2 separate regions of the Homo sapiens genome follow, and region 1 is linked to region 2. Evidence: fine-mapped expression QTL. A gene starts in region 2. The other region holds a variant in brackets. All regions are shown on one strand. Distances are between the middles of the regions. Region 1 overlaps DHX37 (DEAH-box helicase 37). Region 2 holds the start of DHX37 (DEAH-box helicase 37).

Evidence for each region. PIP is the estimated chance that this variant, and not a neighbour inherited with it, causes the effect. A credible set is the group of variants that fine-mapping cannot tell apart.
Region 1: its variant is the best candidate, but not a certain one, in a credible set for the expression of DHX37 in whole blood (TOPMed, PIP 0.67).

The regions. Positions count from the first base shown.
Region 1 is chr12:124,945,444-124,950,810 of GRCh38, reverse strand. DHX37 (DEAH-box helicase 37) reads left to right here. Exons shown (of 27, transcript NM_032656.4): 22 at 7-121; 23 at 261-398; 24 at 568-662; 25 at 752-825; 26 at 2,630-2,727; 27 at 2,924-3,985. The coding sequence ends at 3,009. Among named protein-coding and RNA genes, the nearest start is that of TRA-TGC4-1, 8.2 kb to the right of the region's middle. The variant A/G (reference allele first, on the strand shown) is at 2,437.
Region 2 is chr12:124,986,031-124,991,397 of GRCh38, reverse strand. It overlaps DHX37 (DEAH-box helicase 37), which reads left to right and starts at 2,267. Exons shown (of 27, transcript NM_032656.4): 1 at 2,267-2,481; 2 at 5,133-5,302. The coding sequence starts at 2,376. RefSeq lists a silencer at 2,354-2,563 and an enhancer at 3,804-4,347.

The sequences.
Region 1 (5,367 bases), 41 kb after region 2:
CTGCAGACCCCTCTCCTCGACGACCCTGTCTTCATCCACCCCAGCTCCGTCCTTTTCAAAGAGCTCCCCGAGTTTGTGGTCTACCAGGAAATCGTGGAGACCACTAAGATGTACATGAAAGGTGCCGAGGCCTGCGGACAGCCCCTTGTCCCCCGATGGTGACGCTAATGGGGGTGTGGCTGGGACCCTGGGGCAGAGGCATGGCAGCCCCTCCCACGGAGGGTGCCGCTGTAACCCCAGCTTCCTCCCCCGGCCCCCAGGCGTCTCTAGCGTGGAGGTCCAGTGGATCCCGGCCCTGCTGCCCTCTTACTGCCAGTTTGACAAGCCCCTGGAGGAACCAGCCCCTACATACTGCCCCGAGCGGGGGCGGGTGCTGTGTCACCGGGCCAGCGTGTTCTGTGAGTTGGGGCAGTGTCCTGGGCAACCTGAGCCTCCTGCAGCCGTGGGCTTCTCGGACACACGGTCCTGTCCCCTGCCCCCGGACGTGTGTGTCTCGGGTGGGGCAGGGATGGGACTCGGGAGGGCAGCTGCAGGAGGGTCCCTGTCTCACTGGCTCCCACCTTCTAGATCGCGTGGGCTGGCCGCTCCCCGCCATCGAGGTGGATTTTCCAGAGGGGATTGACCGCTACAAGCACTTTGCCCGGTTCCTGCTGGAAGGGCAGGTAGGTGGCACAGCGGCTCCAGACCCTCATCTCGGGTACCGTGGGCAGCAGCAGCCCGGGCCTCACCCCTTCCTGTGGTCTCTCATCAGGTCTTCCGCAAGCTGGCCTCATACCGGAGCTGTCTGCTGTCCAGCCCCGGCACCATGCTGAAGACGTGGGCCAGGTACTGCCTTCGGTGGGAGCCTCGCAGTGGGCAGGAGGGGTCCGAGGCCTGAATGACCTCCCCGGGGCTGCCAGGACAAAGCACCACACACAGGGAGGCTTAAAACATCAGAAGTCTGTGCTCAGGTCTGAAGGCTCTGCAGAGCCACGGTCTGTGCAGCGGCTCTCGGGGAGGGTCCGTCTTGCCTCTGTCGGCCTCCTGGGCTTGTGGCCACATCACTCCAGTCTCTGCCTCCATCTTCACGTGGCCATCTCTCTGTGTGTCTTTAGTCTCCCTCCCTGTGTTCTCCTTATAAGGACACCAGTCATTGTATTCAGGGCCCACCCTACTCCAGGATGACCTCTCCTTAACTCATGACATTTGCAGTGACCCTCTTTCCATATAAGGTCACACGCTGATGTTCTGGGTGGACATGAATATGGGATAGGGGAGACACTGGGCAGCTCCCACAGAGCCGCCAGGTGTCAGTGGGAGGCATCCTGCCCTCCTGGCCCTGGGGACTTCCTCCCAGCTAAGCAGACCCCTGCCCCATCCCGCCCACCACCTCTGCTTCAGGGCTCACCCTTGCCCTCTGCCTCCTGCTTCTGCTCTCCTCCTGCCTGTGGTCCAGACCCACAGACACCTCCCCCTTCCTGGGGCTGGTGGGGCCTATGGTGCAGGGGCTTGGGGCACTGGAGGCAGGCCTGAAGGTGCAGGCAGGTGCCAGGGACTCGAGATGGGGCGTGGGGCACAGCACCCGCTGCTGGGCTGTCAGGAGCCGTGTCAGTCACTCAGCTCACGTTTTCCAGTGTGGCCCTGTCCCAGGCATGTTCTCGGGGCTGGGATACAGACACGATCTCTGTCCCACAGCAGCGTTGCTCGGCCCCAGAGGGACAGAGCAGGACATGAGTGAGGCCTCGGTGGGCAGGGGGTGGAGTGCGACTGGGCTGGTCGGGGAGAGCCTCACTGGGCAGATTCAAAGGAGCCAGGGCTGCAGCTGGGCACAAATCTGGAGGAAGGTTCTAGATGAGACAAGTTGCATGCACAGAGCAGCCTTGGTGGGCAAGGAATGTGGACCAGAGGCAGCCAGGGTGGATGGGAGGAGGTGGGATCTAGAGCCTTCTGTCCCGGGATGATTAGGGGAAGGGGACCCTTTGCCTTCTCTTTTATTTTATTATTATTATTTATTTTTTAGAAGGCCTGTCTAGAGAATTATGTTTTTTTGCTTTTGAGTTTTGTTTGTTTGCTTGTTTGTTTGAGACAGAGTTTTGTTCTTGTTGCCCAGGCTGGAGTGCAATGGCGTGATCTTGGCTCACTGCAGCCTCTGCCTCCTGGGTTCAAGTGATTCTCCTGCCTCAGCCTCCTGAGTAGCTGGGATTACAGGTGACCGCCACCATGCCCGGCAAATATTTTTGGATTTTTAGTAGAGCTAGGGTTTCACCATGTTAGCCAGGCTGGTCTCGAACTCCTGGCCTCAGGTGATCCACCTGCCTCAGCTTCCCAAAGTGCTGGGATTACAGGCGTGAGCCACCACGCTCAGCCAGTTTGTTTGTTTTTGAGACAAGTTCTTGCCCTGTTGCCCAGGCTGGAGTGCAGTGGTGCAGTCATGGTTCACTGCAGCCTCCAACTCCC[A/G]GGCTCAAGGGATCCTCCTACTTCAGCCCCCTGAGTAACTGGGGCTACAGGTGCATGTCACCATGCCCAGCCAGCTCTTCACCCTCCTGGGTGGGGCTGGTGGGGTGGTGATGCCTGCCCTGCTTTCGGGCCCCCAGCAGCAGCCGGTCTGTGCCCTGGCTGCCTGCCACCAACGTGCATTCCTGCCCCACAGGCTGCAGCCCCGTACGGAGAGCCTTCTGCGAGCCCTGGTTGCAGAGAAGGCTGACTGCCATGAAGCCTTGCTGGCTGCTTGGAAGAAAAACCCCAAATGTGAGTTTGACCAGGGCCAGGGGGTGGGAGTAGACAGGATGGGGTCACTGAGGCAGGGGCTTTGTGCTTTGTGCACGGTCAGCCCTGGCTTGGCAGAAGGATCTGGCCCCACGGCTGCTGGCCAGCTTTTTGCCACCTGAGGAGAGTCCCTGGGCCCAGGGTCACCCTGACACTGTCCTCCTTCCCTCCCCTGCAGACCTGCTGGCTGAGTACTGTGAGTGGCTTCCACAGGCCATGCACCCCGATATCGAGAAAGCCTGGCCCCCCACCACTGTCCACTGACCAGAAACCTGGCTGCAGGGCCGAGGACTGGTTTGGGGACTGGAGGGCTGGCAGCAGCCTGTCACCGTGCGACCGTGACCACCTGGCATGGGCTTCGTGGCCTGCTCTCAGGAAGTGGGTCAAGCCCTGGGAACCCTCATCCATGAGAGCTCGATCCCGTATGAAGGGTGCTGCCGCCCGTGCCATCTGGCCCGGGGGTGACTTTTTGAACTGTTTATTATATGGTGGATGATGATTTCATCTCACGTGCTGGACGCTGTTCTGTTCAGTGTGCTCTTTGGACTACATTAGTCCCCTGTGGAGCAGCAGGGCTGGAGATCTCTGCAGTCCCTTCCCCGCCCGCCCTGCCAGAAGGCCGAGGAGGCACGTGGAGGGCCTCCTTCCTGCAATTCTTCCCTCTCCAGAGTCAGGGAGGGCTGCCCAGCCCTGGCCTCACAGCCGTCCCAGATGTTAGGTGAGCCACTGAGCTCTGTGTTGACCTTGAGGGGCCTGGCTGGGGGCCCCCAGGCTCCATGCCTTCTTGGGAGGGTGGCCGCCAACGCCTTTCCTGTGTTATGGCAACAGGGAGTGGGCATCTCATCTGCCTGTGGTCAGCTCTCAGACGGCAGGGAGCGGAGCTGACGTTGGCTGTGCTTGGTCACCGCTGCCATGCCGCAGAGGATGCGCCTAGCTGGGCTGGGGCCACACGACTATTATGTTGGCCTTGAACGGGGACTGCAGAGCCCTCAGTTTGTCTCCCTTGTTCCTCTGTGGCTGAGGTGGGAGGGGGAGGGTGGGGTAGGTCCCCCAGCAAGAAAGAGGGACAGGAGCACCCCAGGCAGGACCAAGGAGTCGGGAGGCCCCTGCCTTCTGTCCTCCATGGTGAGGGCACAGATGTCTCCCCAGAGCCCAGCGCTGGCAGAATGGATTCTGCTCCTGGCTTTGCTTCTGCGGCTTCGGTGGAGACAGTTATGGAATAAAATGTTCCTTGCACCCAGATTGTGTTGTGGAATGCACTTGGGGAAGGACACCCAGGTGGCCAGTGTGCTGTCCCGGGACGTGGCCTGGTGGCCGACCTGCCTTCCCAGCACTGCTGTCTGCTTTAAGGAGGCCTCTCCTCACTGGGTTTACTTACCTCCCTGGCTGCTCTCAAAGCCCAAGCAGCAACCTCTCCCCACCTGCCCCAGAGCCGAGATGGCAGCCCGGCCCTTCTCACTCTATGTTCCTCCCCAGGAGCCCAAGGCAGGGCCATGAGCCAGGGCAGCCTGCAGACACGTTTCGCTTGACCCGCCCGGTGATTGAGGAGGACTTGAACTCCTCACTAACATGTAGAATTGGGCTATTTCCCACTCGAAAGTACTGACCTCCAGCTTTCCTAAAATCCCACCGCACATGGGCTAGCAATTCTGAGATGAAAGCGGAAGCTGTCATTCCCACCAGTGTCTCAGGCGCCAGGGCAGCCTCCTCAGGGACGTCCCTGCCTCCTCATTGCACTCCACAACCACAGCAGAGCATCCACAGTTGTAATTAGGCAATTCTTCTTAAAAAATGTTATGTAATTAGCACACCATAAAATTCCCCATTTTAAGGTATACAGTTGCTTTTAGTGTATCACAGTTGTGCAACCGTTACCATGACCTGATTCCAGAGCATTTTTATAGCTCTAAAAAGATACCCTGTACCCATCAGCAGTCTGCCCCTATTTCTCCCAGTTCCCCAGCTCCAAGCCCCACGAATCCACTTTCTGTCTCTGGATTTGCCCGTTCTGGACATTTATCTCTTTTGCTGCTTTTGTTTGTTTGAGACGGAGTCTCGCTCTGTTACCAGGCTGGACTGCAGTGGCGCAATCTCGGCTCACTGCAACCTCTGCCTCCCAGGTTCAAGCGATTCTTCTGCTTCAGCCTCCCGAGTAGCCGGGACTATAGGCACATGCCACCACACCCAGCTAATTTTTGTATTTTTAGTAGAGACGGGGTTTCACCATGTTGGCCAGGATGGTCTCGAGCTCTTGACCTCGTGATCCACCTGCCTCCGCCTCCCAAAGTGCCGGGATTACAGGTGTGAGCCACCGCGCCTGGTTTGTTGCTTGTTTTTTCAAGAGGATCTTATTCTGTCATTCAGGCTGGAGTGCAGTGGTGCGATCCTAGTTCACTGCAGCCTCCATCTCCTGGGTTCAAGTGATCCTCCTACCTCCCAAATAGCTGGGACTACAGGCACACTCCACCATATTGGGCTAAAATTTTTAGTAGCGACAGCTCTTGCTATGTTGCCCAGGCTGGTCTTGAGCTCCTGAAGTACTTCATTCCTTCCTATGGCTGGATAATACCCCATTGTATGGATAGACCACATTTTTATTTGTTTCCGTCTTTTGGCTATTGT
Region 2 (5,367 bases):
CTCTGTTGCCCAGGCTGGAGTGCAGTGGCATGATCTCGGCTCACTGCAACCTCCGCCTCCGGGGTTCAAGCGATTCTCCTGCCTCAGCCTTCCGTGTAGCTGGGACTATAGGCACGCGCCACCACACCCGGCTAATGTTTGTATTTTTAGTGGAGACAGGTTTCGCCATGTTGGCCAGGCTGGTCTCAAACTCCTGACCTCAGGTGATCCGCCTGCCTTGGCCTCCCAAAGTGCTGGAATTACAGGCGTGAGCCACCACGCCCAGCTTTTGTTCAACTTTATATTTGTGAGATCCATCCATGCTGTTATGTATCTGCCTTCTTCTTGCTGTCTAGAATGGTCTATACCTTCTGGAAGGTAATTCACTGATATATTATATTTTAGAAGGAAATATAGGCAAGTGTACTACTACCTACTTAACATTTTTTAAACGTTTCTTAAACTTTTAATTTATTTAAATAAACATATTTAAAGAAGAAACTTTAGATCACTATCATCCTGAGCAACAAAATCCATAAAAACACAGATTTGAGCCTGGGTGCAGTGGCTCAGGCCCGTAATCTCATCATTTTGAGAGGCCAAGGTGGGCCGATCACTTGATGTCAGGAGTTTGAGACCATCCTGGCCAACATGGTGAGACCCCATCTCTACTAAAAATACAAAAATTAGATGGGCATCTTGGTGGGTGCCTGTAATCCCAGCTACTTGGAAGGCTGAGACAGGAGAATCGCTTGAACCCGAGAGGTGGAGGTTGCAGTGAGCCGAGACTGCTCCACTACACTCCAGCCTGGGCGTCAGAGGGAGAGTTCTGTCTCAAAAAAACAAAAACAAGCAAACAAACAAAAAACCCCATAGATTTGATACGCTAATTATGATTTTTTTAAACGTCATTCATTAAGGCCTTCACAGTGGCTTATGCCTGTAATTCCGGCACTTTGGGAGGCCGAGACAAACGGATCCCTTGAGCCCAGAATTTTGAGACCAGTCTAAGCAACATAGGGAGACACCATCTCTACAAAAAAATAGAAAAATTAGCCCGTCGTGGTGGTGTGTGCCTGTAGTCATAACTACTCAGGAGGCTGAGGTGGGAGGACAGGTCAAGGCTGCAGCGAGTGGTGATTGCACCACTGCACTCTGGCCTGGCCCACAGGGCGAGATCTCATCTCTTAAAAAAAAAAAAAAAAAAGTCGGGCGCGGTGGCTCATGCCTGTAATCCCAGCACTTTGGGAGGCCCAGGCAGGCAGATCACGAGGTCAGGAGTTTGAGACCAGCCTGGCCAACATGGTGAAACTCCGTCTCTACTAAAATACAAAAACTAGCTGGGGGTGGTGGCGGGCACCTGTAGTCCCAGCTACTCGGAAGGCTGAGGCAGGAGAATCGTTTAAACCCGGGAGGCAGAGGTTGCAGTGAGCCGAGATTGCTCCACTACACTCCAGCCTGGGCAACAAAGCCAGACCTTGTCTCAATAATAATAATAATGCATTGTTTCCCAGTGTGTTACAATGTGATGCGGTAATGGGAATTTAAAGTTATGTAATAGACAACTTTATTTTTTTTTTTTTGAGACAGAGTCTAGCTCTGTTGCCCAGGCTGAAGTGCAGTGGTGCAGTCTCGGCTCACTGCAACGTCCACCTCCCGGGTTCAATCAATTCTCTGCCTCAGCCTCCCAAGTAGCTGGGATTACAGACGCCTGCCACCAGGCCTAGCTAAATTTTTTTTGTATTTTTGGTAGAGACGGGGGTTTCACCATCTTGGCCAGGCTGGTCTTGAAATCCTGACCTCGTGATCCGCCCGCCTCGGCCTCCAAAAGTGCTGGGATTACAGGCGTGAGCCACCGCGCCCGTAGAGGCCTCCTTTTAGATCTTCCATCTATCCCTGTGATGGAAATATTTGGTGCCTTTTTAAAAGTACACGACTAATACGTTTCTTGTAGGAATATCAGAAAATACAGATGCGCAAACCAGGGTTGGGGGGAAGAAGTTTGGAGTACTGGGGGCGGGGTATATTTTAAAAGGTGGCAAAACACTTCCACTCCCAAGAAGCCAAATTAGTATCAGTAGATATAATTCATATTTAAACCCAGACTACCCCAAGCGAGAACAGCCCAGGACTTAAACTCCGGCCTCCGCTGGGACCTCAGGCCCCGCCTACTTCTCTAAATAGTCCCGCCCCCTGCCCGGCCCGGCTCCGCCTCTCCTCTTCGCTGGGTTTCTCTTGCAACCCCGCCCCTCAGCGGCAAAGTCAGTTACAGTTCTCGCGATAACACAACCCGGAAGTCTCACGGCCGGAGTTGGTGGTCTGGGAACCCACGTGGGCTGGGTTTCGGATTGCTCTGCTGGTCCGGCCGCTGGAGCGCCCACCCTGGCCTAGTCGCCATGGGGAAGCTGCGCCGGCGCTACAACATCAAGGGGCGCCAGCAGGCGGGCCCCGGACCCTCGAAGGGCCCCCCCGAGCCGCCCCCCGTGCAGCTGGAACTGGAGGGTAAGACATCCCCGGACCGGGGCTGGATTTCGGAGATTTCCCAGGGCGGCCTGTGCCCTGCCTTCAGGACTCTCGGGTGGGGATCCCAGAGGGGTGGGATGGATCATCTGGAATGGGGGAATGGGTCCCCCCATTCCAGATGATCCAAAGGAGAGGGGCTTAGTGACAGCCTAGTTTTAACAGTGTATATGGAATACCCGGGATTTCTCTCGCCCTCAAATAGTAACATGGAGAATTTGGCAAAAAAAACAGGAGTAGTTCCATCCCTTCCCATGACTTCGATTATAATCTCTTTATAATCTCCAGCGACCCCCAAATGTGTATTTTCAGCCCAGTCTTGTCTGCTCAGCTCCAGGCTGGCTGACATTTCTCTCAGACCCCTTTTTAGGAGTAGCCCTTATTACATGCCAGGCACTATTCTAGGCACTGGAGACATAGCAGAAAGGGAGATTTTTAGAAAATCCCTGAGTTTACCTGCTGTATAGGAGGAGACAGGCAAAGAATAAACATATAGAAATTTATGCGGCTATAGTGAGCAGATAAAACAGAAGAGGCCATTGGGTGGGTTGCAGCATCCCATAGAGTTGCTGGAGAAGACATCACTCTGTTAGAGTCAAGATCTGAAGGAGACCTGAGTGGCTGCCTGGAGATGAGAGAAAAAACAGGGGGCCAGGGCAGGTCGGGCCTGGACTGCAGTCTTGGCGAGGACTGGGGCTTTTTCTCTACGGGAGAGGGCAGCCATGGGAGCATTTAGAGCAGAGGAGGCGTGGTGGTGGGCACCTGTAGTCCCAGCTACTTGGGAGGCTGAGGCAGGAGAATGGCTTGAACCCAGGATACGGAGGTTGCAGTGAGCCAAGATCGCACCACTGTACTCTAGCCTGGGTGAGAGAGCGAGACTCCATCTCAAAAAAAAAAAAAAAAAAAAAAAAGTTCCACAGACAGGCTGGGAGTTGAGGCAGATCCCCTAACATCTCTGTGCCTTCGTTTTCACATCTGCAGAATGGGACCAGTAGCACACGTTGAGCAGCCTTAATCCAAAATACTCCAAAATTCAAAAGTTTTTGAGTGTCAACATGACACTTAAGGAAATGCTCATTGGAGCATTCCAGATTTCAAATTTTTAGATTAGGGATGCTCAACCAGTGAATAGAATACAGATGTTCCTAAAGCTAAAACAGGTCTGGTTCCTAGCATTTCTGGAAAGGGATATTTAACCTGTAGTAGCCGTCTTACCTCCTATCAGAGTTTTGGAGATGGTAATTTGGGAAAATATGTTGCTTTGAAAAGTAAAGAAAGGTTACAGAGGTGGGGTGTGTCCCAGGACAGGTGACAACCGTTATGATGGCAGTGACAATTCAGGATGGCACCTCAAAGACAGCCGTAGACACTGGGCTGACACTTGGAACTGGACCACCTGAGCAGAGGGGCTGAGGTCTCTCAGACCCAGAGATTTGGGGAAAGTTGTTTCTCACATCAGAACAGGACATTTCCATGTATCCCTGCCTTTCTCAGGGGCCAGAGGAATCTCATAAGAACATGACTCAGATTACCTTCTTTTATTTATTTATTTATTTGAGATGGAGCCTTGCTCTGTCGCCTAGGCTGGAGTGCAGTGGCGTGATCTCTGCTCACTGCAACCTCCACCTCCCGGGTTCAAGCAGTTCTCGTGCCTCAGCCTCCTGTGTAGCTGGGATTATAGGTGCATGCCATCACACCTGGCTAGTTTTTGTATTTTTTGTAGAGACGGGATTTTGCCATGTTGGCCAGGCTGGTCCCCAACTCCTGGCCTCAGGTGATTTTCCCAAAGTGCTGGGATTGCAGGCGTGCGCCACCGCGCCCGGCCCCACCGTACACTCTTAGGAGAACATCAGGCTGGGTGCAGTGGCTCACGCCTGTAATCCCAACACTTTGGGAGGCTGAGGCGGGTGGCTCACTTGGGGGTCAGGAGTTCGAGACCGCCTGGCTAAGATGGTAAAACCCCGTCTCTACTAAAAATACAAAAATTAGCTGGGGCGTGGTGGTACATGCCTGTAATCCCAGCTACTTGGGAGGCTGAGGCGGGAGAATTGCTGGAACCTGGGAGGCGGAGGTTGAAGTGAGCTGAGATTGCGCCACTGCACTCTAGTCTGGGGGACAAAGTGAGACACCGTCTCAAAAAAACAAAAAGAGAAAATCATAGTATTTTTTGGGGGGTTTTCTTTTTTTTGAGATGGAGTCTCACCCTGTCGCCCAGGCTGGAGTGCAGTGGCAAGATCTCGGCTCACTGCAACCTCCACCTCCCAGTTTCAAGAGATTCTCCTGTCTCAGCCTCCCAAATAGCTGGGATTGCAGGCACCCACCACCACACCTGGCTAATTTTTGTATTTTTAGTAGAGACAGGGTTTCGCCACATAGGCCAGGCTGGTCTCGAACTCCTGACCTCAAGTGAGCCACCTGCCTCAGCCTCCCAAAGTGCTGGGATTACAGGCATGAGCCCCTGCGCCAAGCCTTGAGAACATCATAGTATTGTTATGAAAATAGATTTGAGCTCACAGATCCCCCTGTTCCTGTGTGCAGACTCAGGAGGCCCCCATGCAAGTCAGGGGGCTTGTGGGAGGCGGGACCAGAGCTACCTCAAGGAGAATGGGGACTTAATAACTGTGCTCTCTCAGACAAGGACACGTTGAAGGGAGTTGATGCAAGCAACGCGCTCGTTCTACCGGGGAAGAAGAAAAAGAAGACCAAAGCCCCTCCCCTGTCGAAGAAGGAGAAGAAGCCTCTGACCAAGAAGGAGAAGAAAGTGCTGCAGAAAATCTTAGAACAGAAGGAGAAAAAGAGCCAGGTACACCCCACTCGGGCAGGGTCTGCAAGTGGCTCTCCAGCATAGAGAGAGATGGGGGGTCTCTC